Linked DNA regions of Homo sapiens. Changing the gene in region 2 together with the main gene of any one other region gives a genetic interaction. Each region holds a gene or a part of one and is shown on either strand. Other genes may lie near its edges. The genes, in order: EPYC, CSK and HRG.

Evidence for each region.
Region 1: changes in CSK (region 2) and EPYC are lethal when combined (synthetic lethality), as found in Homo sapiens cells (one large-scale study listed by BioGRID).
Region 3: changes in CSK (region 2) and HRG are lethal when combined (synthetic lethality), as found in Homo sapiens cells (one large-scale study listed by BioGRID).

What each region holds. Positions count from the first base shown.
Region 1 is NC_000012.12:91,002,861-91,006,612, forward strand, and holds the start of EPYC (epiphycan precursor), read right to left. Parts: upstream 2,113-3,752; 5' UTR 2,087-2,112; intron 1-2,086. UniProt on the Homo sapiens protein: May have a role in bone formation and also in establishing the ordered structure of cartilage through matrix organization.
Region 2 is NC_000015.10:74,792,029-74,795,680, reverse strand, and holds part of CSK (tyrosine-protein kinase CSK), read right to left. Parts: intron 2,636-3,652; exon of another isoform or gene 2,433-2,635; intron 1-2,432. UniProt on the Homo sapiens protein: Non-receptor tyrosine-protein kinase that plays an important role in the regulation of cell growth, differentiation, migration and immune response.
Region 3 is NC_000003.12:186,664,459-186,668,210, forward strand, and holds the start of HRG (histidine-rich glycoprotein precursor), read left to right. Parts: upstream 1-1,555; 5' UTR 1,556-1,573; coding exon 1,574-1,756; intron 1,757-3,752. UniProt on the Homo sapiens protein: Plasma glycoprotein that binds a number of ligands such as heme, heparin, heparan sulfate, thrombospondin, plasminogen, and divalent metal ions. Binds heparin and heparin/glycosaminoglycans in a zinc-dependent manner.

The DNA.
Region 1 (3,752 bases), on a different chromosome or scaffold from region 2:
CAAAAGCTTTTCATCATCTAATAATTTTACCATTTAATAAACATTAAGATCCTTCATCAACTCTGGGATATGAAGTTGAAGATGATAAGGATAATGATGATGACGGTGATGATGACTGCAACTGTCATACCATTTTATAGGTGAAGAAACTGAGGCAGAGTTGACTGGTAATGCAACTAGGATATCCACAAATAATTCCAATTTCAGTGATCCACAGTGTGGCTTAGGCATTGGGGTTTTAAAAATAATTTTAAAAATAGGACTCATAACTGTTTCTTGTACATTTAAGTCTAAGGCCTTCTTCAGAACAAAGTAACAAAGTTTTGTTTGTTTTTTCTGTTACTTCTTTGTAGCCTCTGGACATATAAATACATACATTGTTTAATATGTACGTTAGTATTTCATGCAATATTGTTCAAAATGCTCCTAATGAAATAGAATAGAAAAAAAATTTCCTTTAGTCCTCAGTATTTTATTTAATTCTTAATAGCTATCTAAGATTTGAACTCAGAACCAACAGGAATACATGTTTAAAAGGCACTATTTGGTAAGATTCCCTTGTATGCCTGTGGGATTATAGCCATCTTTGTTTTTTAATTCCTTAATAAGCACAATTCTTATTTTCCATTATAACATTATGCTTTTTGAGGATTCAATCAAGATCCTATAATTTAATTATTTTTTTAGTTCTGTATGTACTCATTTGAATACATTTTGGTTTAGAAAAAAAATCTTCACATTTAATTTGAAACATTTAAGTTAGTCTTACCAAAATGTTACCTAGTGATCCCTTATTGAGCAGGCAAAGTATTGTAAAATTCTGTATCAAGCATGTCTAATTTTAGAGGCTTTTACATTTGGACACACTTCTTGGGTTTACTTTAAGAACAGTACCTGTGGTGTTACTACCTATGCATACATATAAAAGGGAATTCATGATAAATATTACTTTTAAACTTGAATGCACTGGCAGACAAAATGACCTTCAGTTACTTGAAAGAAAGCCTTTATGAAGCAGGTTTAGGCAGAAGGATATGAAATTCCTCTGAGAATAAGAAGCAGTACAAGGAGCTCCTTCTTAGCTCTCCTATGCTTTCTTCAAATAAATTTCTTATTCACACAGGATAAACTAAGCCTCTATTTCAGTTGCCTTTGCAGAAGTCTTTGCAGGATTGCAGATTTGGAACTGTTCTAGGCAATTACCAACAAAGTCCTACTTAATAAAACAGTGGGTTTGCAAATCTTCCAGGAACCATTCTCCCATAATCAAGTTGGAAACATTAACAGAAGCCACTACCAACTTAAAAAAAATTTTTCCTTATATGTTTCTGGCAACTTCCATTATTCAAAGAAATTATACACTTGCTGGCCTTTTTTCTCACATCATACTATATTTGATTACATATAGCTACATCTCAGAATTTGCTTGCATTTTGCATCACTCCTAGAGCTATCAACTATAAGGCAGGCTGTGTGAATCTTAAAAATATATACAGCATCTATCTATGTTTAGTTAAAAAATTTATATTCCTTTCTTCAAGTAATTGTATTAGCATTTAATGTAGTTTCTTAATTAACACTTTAATTTTGTGTTCACTTTATACCATTTATTAATATTTTAAAATTTGTGTATTTAAAACTTTCAATATATAGCTCAAAAAAATTTTAAATGCATAATGTCATGTAATCATTACAATACTTTTAATCTCAGGAAATTTCACTATTTCCTCCCTTTTCACAAAATTTCAATTAATATCAATCAATAGTGCCTGTCTATACTGGCAAAGAATGTGGTCTGTGTCAGGAAACTTTACTTAAGGCATATATTGGAAACTACTCTAATTTTATTGGCATCTGTCATGACTACTGAGATTAACTATTTGCTGTATGTTATTAATTCCTAAGCTAATTCAAAATTTTGGATTTTCCAAGAATAATATAAATACAAAGTCAATAACAAAAATAAACCAAATCCATTGAATCAAAATTCACCAGATGACATTAAGGCAAGTTAAATTATTTTTTAAAGGTTGTTATAGTAGGGAAAGAACTCTGACCCAAGAAGAAAGCAAGTATAAAAACTTACCTTTGGCTCTGACCTGATGAAATGGCACAAAGTGACTGAGGATGCAGAGCTAGTGGTATTTGCCCCTGACCAATGGCTGTGAATTCTGGTCTGTGGGAGGTGGAATTTATAACACTCAACTTTCTGTTTGCAAAACCTAATATTGAGAAATACTTCTCAGTCTTTAAAAAACCTCAAATTATTTTATAGTCACCCAAACTAAGCAGTAGGATCCAAATCACATAGTATACAAAGTTCTTGAAATTATGTTAATGGAGTTATAATTGCCAAAGTATCACCTTAAAATTTTTAAATGGAAAAAGTTGGATTTAACATACCTCATCTGTAACAAACTCACCAATTAAGAAATGAAGTTCATGTATACAGTGATACTATAGATGGATATTTTAGTTCTAATAAGAAATAATTTTCCCAAAACTTGAAGTCTTGAATTGCTTTCTTCACTTTTCATTAATGTTAAGTGAAATTTGGTAAATGTTGCAGAAACCTTACCTGTTTAATATTGGGTAAGTAAAAAAAGATATCCCAATTATTTTGATTGCATGGAATGCTTTGATAGCAAAACAGGGAAAAATGAACCTTTTGCATAACTTTAAAAAAATTACATCCAGAAGTGATGCATAAATATGATCTGCGTGTTTTGGGGAGAAAAGGGGCTTTTTTTAAAAAAAGTTATTGTATCTATCATAGACAAATAAATCAAATTACACATTTTTTCCTTAGAATAGGAGCTTTATTTTAAGCTCTTGTTAACTTCCATGGTTTGTAAAATTGAACTTTAATACAAATATGAAGAGAAAAAATATGCTTTAAATTTCCATACCTCAATTTTACATTGTATAAGTCCTAGAGAAAGGTGAAAGTTGCATCTTGTATTCTGGTATGCTTTAGATAAATCTAGGAATTTGGTTCTCACTTATGCTTCAGGAATCTTTTCCTTCATGTCTGCAAGTGAATAGATGTATTGAATTTTGAAAGCGGTATTACTCCTGGGCCAAGTGATGGGAGAGAAGAAGGTTTGTCTTTAAGGTTCTCTCACTCCCCTTCCTGCCTCTGCTCCCATCTTCCCTGCCCTCAAAATGTCTTTGCCCATCTATTCAGGGCATTCTTATTTGTCATCCCCATCATCCAACCCTGTTTCCAAATGATTTGTTCTTAGTATGCATTGTTTTTCTCAAAAACAATTTTATTTGGAGCAGAAACAGTGATAATGGGTAATGTATGAAGTCTACCAAGACCTCTCAAAAAATAGAGAGGCCATCTTGGAGACAGGAACTTATTTCTGGCATCTGTGAAGTCTCACCCCACCATATAAAGGCCACTTTTAGAAGCAGTGCTGGAAAGATGCCTGAATCCAAGTTTCTAGGCTTGTCCTCTTTAGAAGCAAGGTCCACGTGGGGTGTCAGGTGATTTCATATATGATTGTTAATCACCTCAACACATTCTTAAGCAGAGTGCTTACCACTATTCACAGATGGGACTACTGAGACTCAGATGATAAATGATACAGCACCATGTGTGACACAAAAAAAGAGGAAATCAACTTGGCTTTTCTCTGTGTCAGGTCCCTAGACATGATTGAGTCTGTCTGAGGGATACGTGTATACACAAAAAGGCAGTGTTAGCTCTCAGTTCCACGCATTTCTGATTCAAAGCCTATTTATCT
Region 2 (3,652 bases):
CCAAAAAAGCTACCCTAGCCAACCCCATTCCCTGAGAGCAGCAACCCACCCGTCTGCACACACATACTTTGTAATCCCAGCCCAGAGCCCCCTTGGACCTGTCTCAGGAAGCAGAGGGGCTGGAACTACTGTTTCCTTTCTACGGGTGAGGAAACTGAGGGTGAGAAAGGGCCAGTGGCATCTTCGTGGTCACAGTGTGTTAGAAGAGAAACTCCTCCATGAGCCTCTTTGCTGGGCTCTTTGATACAGTGGATGAGGTCTGGGGGCTAGGCTGACAGTCACAAATATTGCTACCTACCCCAGTGGAAGGAGACATTTTATTTTATTATTATTGTTATTATTGCGACGGAGTCTTGCTCTGTTGCCCAGGCTGGAGTGCAGTGGCGCGGGAGAAGACATTTTAGTGCAAAGTGCTGGGGGTGTGAAGTAGGCACGGACTGCAGAGCTCAGACAGGCTCCCTGGAGGAGGGAGCTCTGGGGCTGAGCCCTGAAGATTGCAGGGCTTACACAGGCAGAGGGCGGGCCAGGGAAGGCACCCCAGGTTGATGCAGCAGTCTGAGCAAAGGTGTCAGGCAGGGGACTGGCATAGTATGAGAAACTGGCCCAGGTGGAAGCCGATGGTGAGGGAAGCGGGAAGGCAGACCCTGCCCATCTGGGGCTCTAGGACCCCACACACTTCCAGAGTCCACCTTGAGCACCGCTGCTCAGGGGACACTGTAGGGGATGGTTTCAAGTGGGCCTGGCATAAACTCTGCCAGGCAGCAGGGGGACTTCCACTGCCAATGTGAGGAACCAGGGTTTGACTCCAAGGGCGATGGGGCCTCAGCAGGGGGGCATGTGATCATGGAGAGCAGAAGGAGCTGGGGAGGAGACGGCCAGGGAGAACCAACACTTCCAGGCCGCACACCTGGCTCTATAGTCAGGCCTGGGCTTAATACCTGGCTCTGTTGACTGTGCGACTTGGGGTGAGTGACTCAACCCTTCTAAGTCTTGCTTACCCTGAAGGGGAGGACAGGTATCTCCTGCAAGCTGGCTGAGGAGGGGCTGGAATGAAACCCTGAACTTGGAAATGTCTGGTGCGCCCCTGCCCCATCCCCTGGATGAAAGAGCTTCCGTTCCTCCCAGAATACAGGGCCCTTTCTATCCCCAGAGGCCAGGCCATCAATCCTGCTGTTTAGGCAGGGACACTGAGGCCCAAGGAGGATGAGCCTGAAACCTGCCTCCATCCACATGACTCAGTCACCACTAAGTACAGGAACCATCCCTTGCCCCTGCCTCCTGTGGACTGTAAGCTGTGAGGGTGGGGGTGGCGGGGACCCCTTGCCCCTGCCTCCTGTGGACTGTAAGCTGTGGGGGTGGGGGTGGCGGGGACCCCTTACCCCTGCCTCCTGTGGACTGTAAGCTGTGGGGGTGGGGGTGGCGGGGACCCCTTGCCCCTGCCTCCTGTGGACTGTAAGCTGTGAGGGTGGGGGTGGCGGGGACCCCTTGCCCCTGCCTCCTGTGGACTGTAAGCTGTGAGGGTGGGGGTGGTGAGGACCCCTTGCCCCTGCCTCCTGTGGACTGTAAGCTGTGGGGGTGGGGGTGGCGGGGAGGGAAGGAGGATTGTGAGCTCTTCTAACCCTCTTACCCCCATTTCACAGAAGCGGAAACTGAGGCTCAACTGGTTGAACAATTTGCCTGAAGTCACATAGCTAGTTAGGGGTGACAGAGCTTGAATTAGGGTCCCACTAGGGCTGGCTGGGCCCCCAACCTTTAGGTCCTTCTGAATAGGGGCCCTGCTAGCATTCCACATCCCCATGCCTCCCCCTTCCTCCCCAAACTCCCTGCCACCACAGGGGGGCGCGGAGGCTGCTGCGCTGTTAGTCACCCTTCCAGCTGTCAGTTTGCAAACACTCCCTTCCTGGCCTACAGCTACTGCCACCGCCGCCTCCCCACTGCCTTGATTATAATAATAAAAATAATAACAGGCCCTGTTTTCTGAGCACTTATTCTGTGCCAGGCCCTGTCCTTGGCACGTTATGGCTCATCACATCCTCTAACAACTCTGAGACAGAGAAGCTATTATTATCCCCATTTTGCAGATGAGAACCCCAAGTGAGGCCCACAGGGGCAAGGCGGGGGTCCCTAGGGCCACACCTTGAGTGAGCATTCTGTCCCCCTCAGGTGTCAAACTCCTGAGCTGCTGAGCCAGCCCTCCCCATAGCCCCGTGCCTCCCTGCCGGACAGGCCCCAGGAGTTGCCATGGGGACCACACTAGCCTAGGGGCAAGGGAGAGGAGGGAGGAGGGAGGAGGCAGAAGCAGCTATGAGGGGCACAGGGGCGGTGCTCAGGGAAGGGTAAGCCTAGGAGCGGTCGGGGTGGGCTGCCTCAAGGAGCTGGGCTCTGAAGGCCTCAGAGGGTCTGGAAACAGGGAAGAGGGCTAAACTCATCACCTTTACTCTGCTGGCTGTGACTCTAGAACCCAGCTTCCCCATCTGTGCAATGGACTGGTGATACTCCTTGGCTCTGGGGGCTGCTGTGAGGACTGGAGTTGAGCTCTCAGCACCAGAACAGTGCCTGCCTTGCCACAGACATCTTGCAAGTGGGAGCTGCTAACTCTCTTGGACGGCTCCTCCCTGGTGGGGTCATGAGACCCCTGAATGAATGAATAAATGAACAAACAAAAGGGGGAATCCAGCCTGGCTACATCACACTGAGGTCCCATAACCAATGGGACTATAGTTAACCCCAAAGGGACTATAGTTAACCCCAAAGCGATAGCAGCTGTCACCCCACCCCCACAGAGCTAGGGGACAAGGGGCTTGGGATGTGGCAGGACCAGTGCTTCACGCTGACTTCCTGCCCCAAACCCGGCTCCCAGTAGCCCTTGTGCTGGGGTCCCGGGAACAGGCTGGCATTGTGCCCAAGCACTGACGTCAGTGGCCGCAGACAAGATGGCTCAGTGGCTTCCCAGCTAGTGCCTAGGCCGGGGTCCCCTCCTTAAAACATCTCCAGAAGGTGAGACCCTCCCACTGCAGGTCAGAGGCTGACAGCCAGAGTGGCTGGGAGGAGCTACTGCAAACTTAGGCCTCTACAACCCAGCGGGGGTCAGGCACAGAGAGGGGGTCCTTCCTGGGGTTATTTAAACTTAAGAGTCGGGCTACTCTATGGAACAGTGCAGGAACATCGTCCTGGGTGTCAGATGCTCTGAGTCCTGTACCCAGCTCTGCCATCAACTTGCTGTGTGACCTTGGGAAAGTCACTTGACCTTTCTGGGACTTGTTGGCTTCTGGTACCTTAGCCAGACCTGTTTCCCATCTGCTGTTGCCAGGACACCTGTGCCCTGTCTCCCTCCCCGCCTTGCCATTCCCTTCACACTCTCTCCTCCTCCTTTACCGAGGGACTTCCACTCAACCTTGGGGGTGCAGCTGAGCAACTGCTTCTGGAGTACCCATGCCTTAAAAAAACACAGCAGGACAGTCCCTGCAGTGCTGTCTGTAGTAGCAGGAGATGATGGGGAGACAGCCTTTATGTCCATCAGTTGGGGGCTGGGTGGATAAATTACAAGATGTCCCTGAAAGGGGACAGCATAGCTCTAGCTGTGATGGGGCCAGGGGAGATCTCTAGATGCCGATACTGAACACTCCCCATGATAGAGTATGGAAAATGGCAA
Region 3 (3,752 bases), on a different chromosome or scaffold from region 2:
CTCTAGAATCCCAGTAATTCTCAACCTTGACTGCACACACTGGATTACCTAGGAGTTTAAAAACTACCAATACCAAAGTCCACTCCCAGAGATTCTGATTAAATTGTCCTGGAGGAGTCCTTGACATCAGGACTTTTTAAAGCTCCTGGGGTGATTCTAACATGAAGCCGAGTCTGAGAGACATGACTGCAGACTCTCACAGACACTCACTGCGGATAGAACAGGGAGGAATGGAGATGCTGCCTAACTGGCTGTTTCTTGGCAGTGAGGACGGAACCTAGGCTGATTCCCTCTGGTCCCTTCTGATGCTGCTGGCTCTGCTGGTCTGAGGGTTGCATATAGGTATACGGGTTTCTTCTGAAGTGTGAAGGTAGGGGGTCAGCTGTATCATAGCCCAGTCCCCCCCTGCTGATCCCTTCTAACAGTGGGATGGGCATCCAACTATTTGACTCTTACTCTCACCACCATCCTCTTCCACGTGAATCAATTCTTTTTGCAGGGAATTGGGGTGGCATGAGGTGTCCCCAACTTCTTTGCAGGCACACTAATAATAAATAGCATCACTTATTCAGCATCTACTCTATGCCAAGAATTATACTGGTTGCTTTCTTTTTTTCTTTCTTTCTTTTTTAGATGGAATCTCACACTGTCGCCCGAGCTGGAGTGCAGTGGCGCGATCTCAGCTCACTGCAATCTCCGCCTCCCGGGTTCAAGTGATTCTCCTGCCTCAGCCTCCCAAGTAGCGGCGATTACAGGCATGTGCCACCATGCCCAGCTAATTTTTTGTATTTTTAGTAGAGACAGGGTTTCACCATGTTGGCCAGGCTGGTCTCAATCTCCTGACCTTGTGATCAGCCTGCCTTGGCCTCCCAAAGTGCTGGGATTACAGGCATGAGCCACCGCACCCAGCCTGATTTCTTATTTAATTATCACACAAGCCTGCCAAGAGGTATCAATCCATATTTCGTAAATGAGGGAACTATCAGAGAAGTTTTGTTGCTTACCCAGCATTACACAGTAAGAAAGTAATAGAGCCAGGTGAGAAATTCAGATTTGACTTCAAAACGACAGCCTCTTCATTGTTCTATTTTACCTGAAGTCATTCCTTTTATAATGGTACCTGTTTAACATGTTCCCCCGCTTAGATAATGCAGCTGCCTTCTACTGAGGAGTTTTAGTGCCATGATCCATCAGTCCACTGACTGATGATGGAGATTTCCAGCTGAGACAGGCAGGCAGATGGAGGAAAATTACCCCTAGCCCCACCCCCTACACCAACATAGGCACTGCTTATATTCAAAGACGTACTTTAGATCTGCTATCTACTAGAAAAATCCAGATTTGTGCAGATCACAGTTCCACCCACTCATCAGCATTTCTCAGCTTTCTGCCCCCAGGACCCACTAATCATTTACAGCTTGTTGATGGTTATTTGAACCCAGGGTCAAGGTGAACACCCTCAGTTACACAACAAAAATGTATCAAGGTTTTGTTTAATCAATTGCGTGTGTTTCAGAAAGTCTGTATAAAATTCTCTGCAGTGGCAGATCATAGCAAGGGATGGTTTAACAAAATGAAGGCACTCATTGCAGCACTGCTTTTGATCACATTGCAGTATTCGTGTGCCGTGAGTCCCACTGACTGCAGTGCTGTTGAGCCGGAGGCTGAGAAAGCTCTAGACCTGATCAATAAAAGGCGACGGGATGGCTACCTTTTCCAATTGCTGCGGATTGCTGATGCCCACTTGGACAGAGTGGTGAGGAATTGCCAATGGCAGAGCTGAGTTGGGAGATTACTCACGGGGGCAAATGTGACTCTACCCCCTAGGCTTACTGCTTTGCACAATGAATGGCTTTGGTCAGAGTTTTTTGTTTGGCTTCTGCGGCTGCTCTAAATTGTTCTTTTTTCCTTCAAACTAATATTTGTTATTAGTGTACCCGCAACTATGATTCGATTTGTGGGTACATATAAGCATTTATGCTGAGCCCAGTTACATGCTAAGGACTGCCAGAGAAACATTAGAATAAGCTATGGGCCTTGGCCTCCAGGAAATAATAATACACTGGCACATACAGGCAAACAGTGTAAGTTACTAGGATAAACTAGAGAGAAGGAAAAGTTTTCTCAACCCTCCTAAGGCTCCTAACTGAGCCTGAAATAAAACTGGTAGACAAGGCCAGGCGCGGTGGCTCACGCCTGTAATCCCAGCACTTTGGGAGGCCAAGGCGGACGGATCATGAGGTCAGGAGTTCAAGACCAGCCTGGCCAACATGGTGAAACCCTGTCTCTACTAAAAATACAAAAACTAGCTGGGCATGGTGGTGCACGCCTGTAATCCCAGCTACTCAGGGGGTTGAGGCAGAAGAATCGCTTGAACTCGGGAGGCAGAGGTTGCAGTGAGTCGAGATCATGCCACTGCACTCCAGCCTGGGCAACAAAGCTAGACTCCATCTCAAAAAAAAAAAAGAAGAAGAAGAAAACATACAAATTTATTTAATCCAAGGTTTACCTGACACTGGAGTCTTCATAAATGAAGACTCAGATATCCAAAGAAACTGGCCACTTGCATACTTAGAATTCACAAAGGCTGTGCAGAATGCAGAAGTGTGATGGGACAAAAGGCTGTAATCTAAGAGTCATAGACTGAAAGAAGGACCCAGCAAGGCCTCTCTGTTTGAGTTCTTCATGGCCTCTCTGTGTGGCATTTCTTGCTCCCAAGTATGGGACAGGATCCCTTTGGAATGCGGATCTGAGGACCTACTATCAAACAGAGTAGGTCAGAGAATGTCTTTATGGCCAGCTCCTACAAAGAAAGACACAGGGGGAAGGTTAGATTCATATTTTAGGATTTATGGATGCTTTCGGGGAGAGGGATTCTACCATCTGTGACTGTCCTGGAGAAGAGAAATTTTAGTTTCTATGGCTTGCCTTGGGGGAGAAAGCAGAGTAGGAGAACAAAGGGCAGAAGGTCAGACAGATCTGGCTTCTGAGGCCCTTCCCATTTTCTTCAGTTCAAAGGACTCAGCACGCCAAAAGTACCATACTTTGAGATACCATGTTCTGAGCCCCAACAATAGCCAAGTGACCAAAGGAGTGGTAAATGTACTGGAGCAATTTAATGAGGGGAGATCTAGTAAGACTGGATGGGAGGAGGCTTCTGCTGTGTAATGATGCATGGGTAGGATTTGAACAGGTCTGGGTAAATGTGTTCCTGGTGAATTCCTGGCACCACCACTTCTAGGTGGGTATGGAATCAGGAAGAAGGGTGTTAGGGAGCCATTGAATATAAGCAGGTGGGTTCCAGAAGTTCCATGTGGGCTCTGGAGCAGGCATCAGGTAGGAGCCAAGCCTGTGGGCTTGTCTTGAGGTGAAACAAGCTTACTGTCTTCGCTTAGATTACACGCCTACCTAAACTGGACTAGAGGAGCCGATAGACATTATAGAGAGACATGAAGCCTGCCTCTAAGCTCCCCAAATAACCTACTCTCCCTCTGATGGAAAAACTGAAATTAGGGAGGCCAGACAAGGAGTACTACAGAGGACAATTTACCCTTCTGAAAGTATCACAGAGGGAGGCACTGTGGGTTGCAGAGAACAGGTGTGCAGGAGTTTAGGATTCAACCAGTAATTCAGTGACCATTAGTCCCATGCCAGGCTCATCAACACATGTTAGGGCATAGGATGCATCAGCACAGAGCTGCCTCTGAGAGCTAGCATAGAGAGCGGGTGGATGGGGAGGGGTCCTGATGTGC